Regions from separate parts of the Homo sapiens genome. Here region 1 is linked to region 2. The links come from fine-mapping of genetic effects on gene expression. A gene starts in region 2. The other region holds a variant in brackets. All regions are shown on one strand. Distances are between the middles of the regions.

Region 1 (5,381 bases), 58 kb before region 2:
TTAATTTTTACCATCAATCCATAGTTTTTTTGCTAATACTACTTAATGCTCACCCATGATTCCCACAAACACTATATAATGCTAGTTATGTACCTAAGGGCTAGGAAAGTTCCTGGCACCTAATATACTAGTTAAACTCTTACTTACTTTTTAATTTTTCTATTGGGTCTATTTTAGCCAGATAAACTCTTTACTGAATAGCTTTCATAAAACAACATCGACAACAATCTTTAAGGTATGCAACTTTCATAAACAACATAGACAACAATCTTTAAGGTATGCAATGCATAATAACTTTAGAGCCAACTCATGGACTGCTTTGTAAGTTAATATTTTGGCAAGCAGAGAGTTATAATAATTAACAATTTGTGGCCGGGTGCAGTGGCTGACGCCTGAAATCCCAGCACTTTGGGAGGCTGAGGTGGGCGGATCACGAGGTCAGGAGTTTGAGACCAGCCTGGCCAACATGGTGAAACCCCATCTCTACTAAAAATACAAAAATTAGCCAGGCGTGGTGGTGGGCACCTGTAGTCCCAGGTACTTGGGAGGCCGAGGCAGGAGAATTGCTTGAACCCAGGAGGCGGAGGTTGCAGTGAGCCAAGAGCATGCCACTGCATTCCAGCCTGGGTGACAGACAGAGATTCCGTCTCAAAAAAAAAAAAAAAAAAGCAAAAGAAAAAGAAAAAAGAAACAATTTGAGAAGTTCTGTTTGTTACCTGGAATTAGGCAAGCATGTGTGTGTGTGTGTGTGTGTGTGTGTGTGTGTGTGTGTGTGTGTGCGCTTGCCTAATATATTTACATATATTTTGTTTGTTTTTAAGGGATGGGGTCTCACTCTGTCACCCAGGCTGGAGTACAGTGGTACAATCATAGCTCAACACAGCCTGCAACCATGAGCTCCTAGGCTCAAGCAATCCTCTGTCTCAGCCTCCCAAAGTGTTTGGATTACAGGCATGAGCCACTGTGCCCTGCCTATATTTTGACTTAGTGTTTTATAATATATCTCATTGTAATTATTGTTGAGAACTATAATTCAAGTTATTGTATGATTATATAATTTTGAGCAATATCCTAATATCCCTCAATGTGCAAAATCCTATACTTATTGTGATTATGACAAAGAAGAAAGGAATGATAGGAAAATGCAATTATCACTAATATTTTTCTTATTGTTAGAACACCCAGTAAATTCCCAATACCACTATAACAAAATTCTAGACAATAACATATTTTCTTTCAATTAAAAGACAATAAACAGTGATCTTAAATATTAGACTTAGGAGGCCTACAGTAGGCATTCAAAGTCCTCTAGTGCTCAGTTACTAATGCTCATGTAAAACAAGTATATAACAAAAGTTTTTTTTAAGGCAAAATTTATAAAGAATTTAATTAATCAAATTACCATGAACTATCCACGAGATAATCTCCGGAGGACATCCCAGCTCTAGTAACAGGATTTTCTGATTTGCATCAAAAGGACAAATCAGATTGCATCTTCCAAATAAAACCCAACACAGAGATAGGAGCAGCGGCCCATGCATGGAATTTATTGTGTGCTACTGTTTATAAAATACTCGAATAGTCCTGCACATGCATAATATTTCCAACTTAGACAGGAGACCATACAGGGTGCACTTTCTGGCAAACAAAACAATAGATGGTTCCGCTGCCTGGAGCTCTGAGTTGTATTCCAGGGCATGAGGGAAGCAGGCCACCAAAGTAAAGGGAAATACCAAACTACAGTGGCAATCAATACAGGTCAATAATTGTGAAAAATTAGCACATGGTTCCATTTAGTTTAACCAAGCAGTTCAGTAACTATCAAAAGAAAGGTTTCAACATGCAGTCTTGACTTTTATGCTTCCACTAACATCTGAATGATTGAACAGAACCATTGCTTCTAGGCTGCATTGCTTAATCAAAAACACTTCCAGAACATTTTAAAATTTCCTTTGCATTAAAACATAAAAATGATAGAAAGCCAGCAGCAAATCACCCTGGTGGCTCT[C/T]TAAGCAACTTGAGTACTCACAATAAACTAAAATTTCTCATAACATCTAGGTAACCTATACATGTCGTACCTGTACATCATAGGTCTATATATTAAATATTTGCAAAATGAAAACATGCATACACAAAATACGTCAAGTTTTACAGACATGATTTGAATTAAAATTTACTTTGACAATGTACAAACTTCTTTTAAAGTACCTTAAATGAGTAATTCTGTAATTCTTCATAATTTTGAAATTTAGAGGTTTTCTTCTTAAATCTCTGGGGTGTAAGTCTTAAAAGATCTGGGCAAAAAAGACTCTAAATTAGTTTTTGGATTTGTGTTCAAGTAAGAGAGCCTGCCTGGAAATAGGATATGCATTCATAATTAAAAAATACCAAGACTATGTTACAGAATTAGCCACATTTAAGAACTATAGACCTGAGGTCAACATTTTGTATAAATGCCAACTGGGTTTCTCGGCATTTTGCTCACAATTCAAAATACAGCTAGTAACCTCAGAAATGTATTTTAAGACCATGCTAATTCATCCTTTAAAGACATTTCATGGAAAAAGAAAAGTCCACATTAGCTCTTAGGATTGCATTTGAAATCATGATTGAAAAACAAAATCTAATTCTACTGAAGGGGAAAAGAAATCTGATTTGTAAACTTAAATGTGTGAACCACAAGCATAAAATGGAGGTGTGGATGCCCTCCACTGGAAATTGCCCCAAGCCCCTTGCTCACTGCTCTCCACCTTGGCAGCGATGACCCAATCTTATCAGATAGCACATGTCCCAGGGCCCTCAAGCCTCCATCCAGGAAGGGGGCTAGGGTCTCAGAAGCACAATGGTTTCTTCAGAGAGACTGTGAAATTTACAGTCAGCTTGGCCGACCCCTCCAGCTCCTCGGGTGATCTGTCCATTTGGGGCCCGAGATGTGAGAGTCCCTGGGAAGTAGTGGGTCACTGGGCAGTATGGTTGCCCGTCCCGTGGTTCTCAGTGGCATGTGCGGTGTTCAGAGAATTGAAACCATCTTGCTGTACAGCATCTTTCCGAGGTGGCATTCTCTCATTGATCCTATCCAAACCCTTTGCCTCTTCAAAACTGCAGATTCTATGTGGTGGAGAGAATCCTCGTATTGCTTAATAAAATGCAAATTTGATAAGTCAGTAATTGAAAAACATTTCTGAGATTTCAAAAACATAATTAATGATTTTTAAGAAGAAAGAAATTAGTAGCTGTAAGTAGCAACACATAAATCTTACTTTAACTGAATCCTATCCTCATTTCAGTCTTTCCTTAAAATGTGAAATGTTTAAACCTAAATATAAACATCATAGCTTTATAGGTGACAAGTGTTAGCAAAGCCTTCCAAAAAATAAAAATACAAAAAAAATGTTAACCCTCTCCTGCCCCCAAAATCAACCTCCAGGCAATGGTCTCAGGGTCTCAGTCTGACTTCTACTATACCAATTATCTCCTACATCAGTCCCTAAGATCACCAGTGACTATCACAGTAAGGCAGCAATGAGAGTAGGGGCAAGTGAGGAGGCTAAACAAGGTTAATCCTCAATATACAAATCTGTACCAAGAGCTTGGGAGGAGAAAGAGTTAAAGAAAGGTTAAAATACAGTAGATCAGAACTATCTTGGAGGTCAAGGTCAGCCCATCGCCACCAATATAACATTAAAAAGGTGGAAGTGCCTCCAAGAGTTAGATCTGTGTATGGCTGATAGCAAAAAAGTATTTATAATCTCGTAATTTAGAAGATGTTCTCCTTAATTCATTGGCCATACTGCACAGTCTTTGGAAACTCAAATCAAAATAAATGGCAATTCTCCACCAATTGTATGGTTTCTCATTCACTTCATCTAGAATGATGCATCCTCCATTATTAAAGTGTTCATAGGAAATATTTTCAAACCACTGGTTATAATCTGGTTGCTTAATATCTGCAATCCTTAGGTCTTAGTCTGGCACATGAACCAAACAAATGGCTGGGGCTACAAACACTGAGGAATGTGAAATACCAAGCCAACACATATATATATGAACATAATCTTATCCATAAACTATAGCCCAAACTGCGGCCAAAAAAGAAAAAAGAAAATCATTATAGTGACAGTTCCTGTATTCTCAGTCAGGCACACTAGTTTGTAAAAACAAACTCACACCTATACCTAGAGGAGGATTCACTTAGGGAAAAAAAATCTGAGTAGCATAGAATCATGCAAAATATGGAACAGATCTCTATTTGCAGGTCAGTTTGGCAATTTCCATTAAAACAGGCAACTTTATAAAGCTATACTGTATAGCATAACATGCTATACTCTAAAGAAATCAGAAACATTACTTTCTGATTGCATATTACACCGGAAAGAAGAAAAAGACTGTCACCATAGACATCAGCCCTTCTGATTTAAAAATGAAAAATTAAAAAAAGAGGGCTGCAAGGCTTCTAAACTTGATGAATCAGTGAGTCTGATTCATCTTGGGCTGTAAAAGCTAGGAGTAAAACACACCCACAGGACATTCTCTGATGCCCACCCACACACCACAGATCTCTGCCCAGCACAAGGACTCTGATCATACCTTTTTCAGCCTCAATAGCCTCAACTGTGGCTGTACAGAAGTGAGCAGAGGCATGCAAAATGAATGAGAGAGATGAGAAGGGTCATATTGTACAGCAGAAAAGGCAATGATCACTTAAAATATCACAGTATCCCATACTACATCATCATTTAAAATTTAACATAAATAGTACCCAAATTAGAGAGCCCCATCCAAACCCCCAATTCCTGACACAGCACAGTTTACACACAGCACTATGACAACATCACTCAGAGCACAGAACACATAAACCTACTGTAAACACAGACACCTCAGCACCCATGCAAATGCACTCCAGTATTAATTACCCATCTTGAATCAGTAATTTGATGGCCTTAGAATTTTCCATTATGTTTATTATATCACATCCATCACAATCACAGGAAAATGCTCTAGGGTAAAATTATAATAGAATTGTAGCAGAAAAGCAAACAGAAAAGTCTTTTCTTTCATGTCAGTGAGAACAATACTCATTACCAGTTGGTTCCCTAAGACATAAACTAGAAGGGGTCAGCAATGCTTTACCTGTTACTTGTAATTTATAAGGCAAAACATAAGCTGCAAGAGCTGATATGACTACAGTGAAATTTAAGGGCAGTAAACTTGATGAATTACTATAAGTAGAACAGTTCTGTGGCTCTGTTCTTTGTGGGGGACCTGAAAGGACTTCTCCTGTCTACCAGTAACTTCCTTTCTATTCTAGTACTGATGTTCCAAATACCTACAGATACTAACATCTATAGCCTTAAAAAATTCCATTTATACTGACAGAGTTT
Region 2 (5,381 bases):
CATTCAATGCCAACAGACAGTCTCCATAATATCACTACTATGAAAATGTATCGATACAAAACTACCACCACATTGTGGACTTAAAAGAAATTTGGATTTTAACAAGTTAAACTTAAGCTGAACTCACATCATTTATCATCAGGCAACCAGTATTCTCTAATATCAGGTATCACATTATAGTATAATTACTGAATAAAAGACAAGGAAGAATCCTGAAGATGAAATTTAAAAGTGAATTTCTGGATCTGTAAGAAAGGTGAATTTCCCAGTAAATGCAGGAGACTCCATGAGCAGTGCAAATTAGTCTGTTACACACCATTTTAAAACATATAATCCATACAGGAATTCCAACTGGTTAACAAATTCCATAAAGAAATGAAAGTTGTCTCTATGAAGAGGGCACAATGAAGCACCAGAAATATGATAACCATAAGCTTTATTTAACTATAATTTTCTATATTAACAAGCTCCTTTCCTATTTATCTAAATCAAATGGCTTTTATTCCACACCAATAACCTGCAAATATGACTGCCTTGGACTCACAACTCACCCCTAAGGAATCTGCCTTATGTTTGGAATCTTATTTTCACTGCATTAAAGCAGTACAGAAAAAACATTACCATATATATGACAAGGAATAAGAAGATTCACAAACGTAAGGATAGCATAAACTCATTGTTCAGGAATGTGATTGGTTACCCCATCTAACAGTCTGGTGAAAAGTGCCCAGGGAAATGAACACACAACACAGAAATACAGTCAGAAAATGAAGAGGTAGCCAATGTCCCGTTCCCACCCCCACAAAACTCCAGGATTTCTTGATAGAATGAATGTCTGCATTACTATTTTTTTTTTAAGATTTCTCTGTATTAAGGATTCCATAAACTCGTTATTCAGCTCATTCCAATGCCTGGCCCAACTGGATATACTACTAACTTAAGCCTAGGTGCAAATCAGTGTTTTGTTTTTGTTTTTGTTTTTGTTTTTGGAGACAGGGTCTGGCTCTGTCGTCCAGGTTGGAGCACACTGGCGCAAATCTCGGCTCACTGCAACTTCTGCCTCTCGGGCTCCAGTGATTCTCGTGCCTCAGCCTCCCGATCCGCTGGGACTACAGGGGCGCGCCACCATGCCCGGCTAATTTTTATTTTTTGTATTTTTGGTAGAGAAAAGGTTTCGCCATGTTGCCCAGGCTGGTCTCCAACTCCTGAGTTCAAGCGATCCGCCTGCCTCAGCATCCGAAAGTGCTGGGATTACAGATGTGAGCCACCACGCCAGGCCAAATTAGTATTATTCTTTTAAGAACCGAAGAAGGCTCAGGTTGAAAATTTTTAATTAAAAAAAAAAAAGAAAAAAGGTTTCCTTGTTTTTAAATATTTTAATGGAAACATATGAGTCAGATTTCAAAAAGTAGGCTAACGGTGTTTAAATACTGTGCCAGTGTATTTGAGAAGCTGAATGAAAACAAAAGTACCTATATTTTAAAAATAAATACAATACAAATAAGGAAAAGTTCATTCTACGATTTCAATTTATCAATCAAGCTACATGGTAAAGAGAATCATTTCAATTGTTTTTCACCTCCACAGCAGTGTTTGAGGTTGGTAGGCTCTCCCAGGAAGCTTGGAATCTTAAGCAACTCTCAATTAGCCCTCAATTTCTCTATTTTAAATTAATCTGCTGACCTGTTGTGGGTAAACATCCATAAATTCTGCCCTGGCTGAGAAACATTTAACTTTTTCGTCTAGGATGAATGTGTGGGTGTGTGTTTGTAAGGGAGGGGTAACTCCTTTTGACCAAAGTGTTGATGGTTTTCTAAGTAAATACTTGCTATCCACAAGAATTTTTTTTTTCGTTTATGCTGCTTTTTCTCCCTTTCTGCACTATAAAGGCTGGCCTTCCAATTCCTGCCCCGACCCTTCACCGTGATCCAATCCCACAAGGTTCCCCTAATTTCTGCTCCGGGTGGCACCTGACGGCCAAAAGTGAACCCCTGCGGTTGTCGCCAGCTAGACGCGGATAGGGCGGACGACTGTCACCGGGGAGCAGGCGTGGGCCAAAGCCGAGGTGATTTCTGACTGCTCACTGGCGGGCCTCGCGTGGCTGAAGGTCTCCGAGCCCCTCGGTTCGCCCCGGCAAGCCAGAAGTGCAGCTGTCGCGGGGCAGGAAGCTAATCGCGGCCCCTGCGCCGCTTTGACAGGCCGAGTGAAGAGAAAACGGGCTCACTGCAGCTAACAGCCTCACCCCTTGGGCTAGGAAGCCACGGAAGCAAAACCTCCGCCCCGGCCTGAAAGCAACCGGGAGACCGCGGAACCACTGCCACCGACTCAGCCCTGCCCAGCAGGGGCCCGCCCAGGGGCCACTCCCCAAGGGAGGCAGCCAGTCACTCGCCCGCCCTTCCGGGCCCACTCCCGAGGGGACGGTCTCCCGCCCGCCCTCACACACAGCTAGCTCTTCAGGCCAGGCCCCCAGGGTTTCGTCCACCTCTCACCTTTGACGACGCGGTCAGCCCCGGGAGGGGGCGGCGGGGGCGGGGGTGGGGGCGGTGCAGCCCGGGCCGGCTCCGGGGCGGCCATGCTGGGCCCGGGGCTCGGCTAGGCTCTGGGCCGGGCGGGGTTGGGGGCGGGGGCGGCGGCTACCAGAGCCAAGCGGCGGCGCCGCCGGGGAACATGGCGGACCCTCTTTCCCTACAGAGGGGCTAAGACCGGCATGCACTGCGCGTGCGGGGGTGGGGGCGGGGTAGGCTCTAGGGACTTGGGCAAAATTACTGAAGCTAGGAGAGAAACAGGACGAGGCCAAGGGATCAGGTTAAAATTCTTTGCATGCAGAATGAAGAATGAGGAGGTGCTGCGATCGAACGACTGCGAGGAAACACACCCGCTCTCATGGCATTCCCAGTAAACTGAGAAGACGTGATTAAACCTCAGGATCTCCTACTAATAGAGAAATGTATAACGATTTAGCTACCAGATCTGAATACTGAAGGGTTGGTAGGGGACCAGAGAATAGAGGAAGCATTGTAGGTTCTAGAGTGGAGAAGGGACCATCCAAAATGGAGTTTGAAAGAGAATTCTGGCCTTTGTGTTTAGAGTCTGGAATTGTCAAGAGTCTGAAAGCACAGAATAAGACTGCAGCTAGAGCAATTTAGGCGCCATAGTTTGTCAAAACAGGTAAGGGGAATAAAGGGGATGACACCAAGAGATGTGCAAAGAATCTGAAGAATTCACCTGAAAAGGATACAACCTCCTCCTGGAAGGCAGAGGAGTAAATAGGGAATTGGAAATTAATTCCTTATTTCTGCACATGCACAGAATCTGGGCCCAGGTGACTTATGGAACCTTTATAGAGACCACGGTGACTGACACTCATGGGAAAGGGGGTAGAGGGGCAAGAACTGACTGTTCATCAAAAATTATTAGATGAGTGTGTCCACGACACCAGGAGATATGTTGAATCATGGACAGGGACCAGCATATCCACTAAGCTCTATATATCTTGATGGTGCAGGATCCAAGTGGGATGGAACAACCAATTCCTGCCCATCCTCCTGCTCAATAATACATGTGCTCAGAATCTGTTCATAATGCATGGTGGTAAGTAAGTAGTAGTCCGAAGGTCCAAGGAGTACCTTTCTACCTCTTCTTTGTGTCAATTTCTATCCTGAGACCCCAGGAAAAGAGGAAGGGAAAGACCCAACAATGGATTTTTTCCAAAAAGGGAACCCACAAGCTATTTTTTAGAGGGAAGAGTCTCGGGAGTGAGGCACAGGTGAAAATGGATCTTTCTGGCATGGAAGGGCCATAACACCACAGGGGAAGGGAAAGGGAGAGGCCCCCACGGAAGGAGAGGAAGGAAGGGACAGGAGGCACGTCACAAACTTATAAGATAGAGGGAAGGCACCTGGAGTACATTGATCAGGAGTGAGTCTGTAAGAAGAGCTTGAATCCCCAGAAAATCTTCCTAAGGAGGGGAGGAAGGAAGTGTATAATGTACTGAGTACTGAATGCTCTGTCAGGAAAGGGATGGGAAACATCCTAGCAGCAATACTAGAAAGGAAAGGCACCCTATTTTAGGACCCATTGATTCCCACCTTGATTGTATATCCTTCAACTCGTCTCTGGCTCCTCACTTCCACTCAGTCAAAAGCCACTTCATATATTTATCCAGACTTCCAGCCCCAATACAAAGAAAGCAAGAGCATACAAAGGGAAGAATGACAAGGAATTAAATAGAACTGTCTTATAGATTTATTAATGAAAAATACTTTACAAAAACAGTATGTTTGGCCTAAAATAGTTCAGCTGACTCTGAGGGTTTACATTGACGACTGAGCAAGTGGCAATAATGGCTGTGTTATTGAGGACAGAAGGCTGTGTTAGTGTGCCTGACTCCATCTGTTCAAAAGGGTGAATGTTATGTTGGCAGCTCCGCATTCTAGGCCTAAGGTTTGGAGGGCACAGGGAATGCTGACAGGCCATAATACCTGGGCAGGGGGGCTGCCCTGATGATGTCATCAGAACCATGACCACAGGGCTACATGTCCCCCCAAGGATGGGAGACAGGGAAGACAAAGGGTCAGGTAATAGGGATAGGTGGATAAAACAAAGAGTAGAAGTTGGGAGTATAGTAGGGAACAGAGGATGAGGGCTCAGGTGGAGGTGGGGACATAAAGCATCCAGGAATAAAATGTGACCTTAAAATCCTAAGGAATGGCTAGTATCCAGAGTAATACCATGGATTCATCTTTAAAGTGGCTCAGATAAAACCCTTAAACAGCAGCTGCTTCCTTTTGCTAGGGGGAATGGAAGTTGGAATTTCAAATATCCCCTCCCAAAGAATCACATCTTTTTAGAGGTTCCTGACACCCTTAGGAGAACCCACCAATTCTATGTTGAGATGAGAATAGCACAACCATGGCAGTGATGCAGGGTACCAACGCTGCCACAGTAGTTTATTTTGTTGTTGTTTTGTTTTGTTTTTTGAGATGGAGTCTCACTCTATTGCCAAGCTGGAGTGCAGTGGTGCGATCTCGGCTCACTGCAACCTCTGCCTCCCGGGTTCAAGCAATTCTCCTGCCTCAGCCTTCCGAGTAGTTGGGACTACAGGCACGCACCGTCACGCCTGGCTAATTTTTTGTATTTTGGTAGAGACGGGGTTTCACCATGTTGGCCAGGATGGTCTCAATCTCCTGACCTCGTGATCCACCCGCCTCAGCCTCCCAAAGTGCTGGGATTACAGGTGTGAGCCACCGCGCCCGGCCCACAGTACAGTTTTACAAAGAAAGGTGTAGCTCCAGGAAAGGAAAGGAATAACCTTTACCATTGACTGTGCTGCAGGACTCTAGCCCTGATCTGCTCTCTTCTGGGAGCATCTGATAGAACAA

Evidence for each region. PIP is the estimated chance that this variant, and not a neighbour inherited with it, causes the effect.
Region 1: its variant is the best candidate, but not a certain one, in a credible set for the expression of PPP3CB-AS1 in whole blood (INTERVAL, PIP 0.77).

Annotation. Positions count from the first base shown.
Region 1 is chr10:73,435,285-73,440,665 of GRCh38, forward strand. PPP3CB (protein phosphatase 3 catalytic subunit beta) reads right to left here. Exons shown (of 14, transcript NM_021132.4): 13 at 4,588-4,617; 14 at 1,149-3,136. The coding sequence ends at 2,958. Among named protein-coding and RNA genes, the nearest start is that of MSS51, 4.4 kb to the left of the region's middle. The variant C/T (reference allele first, on the strand shown) is at 2,009.
Region 2 is chr10:73,493,316-73,498,696 of GRCh38, forward strand. PPP3CB-AS1 (PPP3CB antisense RNA 1) reads left to right here and starts at 2,437. Exons shown (of 5, transcript NR_132104.1): 1 at 2,437-2,502; 2 at 2,827-3,168. PPP3CB (protein phosphatase 3 catalytic subunit beta) reads right to left here and starts at 2,709. Exons shown (of 14, transcript NM_021132.4): 1 at 2,490-2,709. The coding sequence starts at 2,574. It overlaps USP54 (ubiquitin specific peptidase 54), which reads right to left. Exons shown (of 24, transcript NM_001391956.1): 24 at 4,223-5,381. The coding sequence ends at 5,314. RefSeq lists enhancers at 1,776-2,235, 2,726-2,915 and a silencer at 2,296-2,645.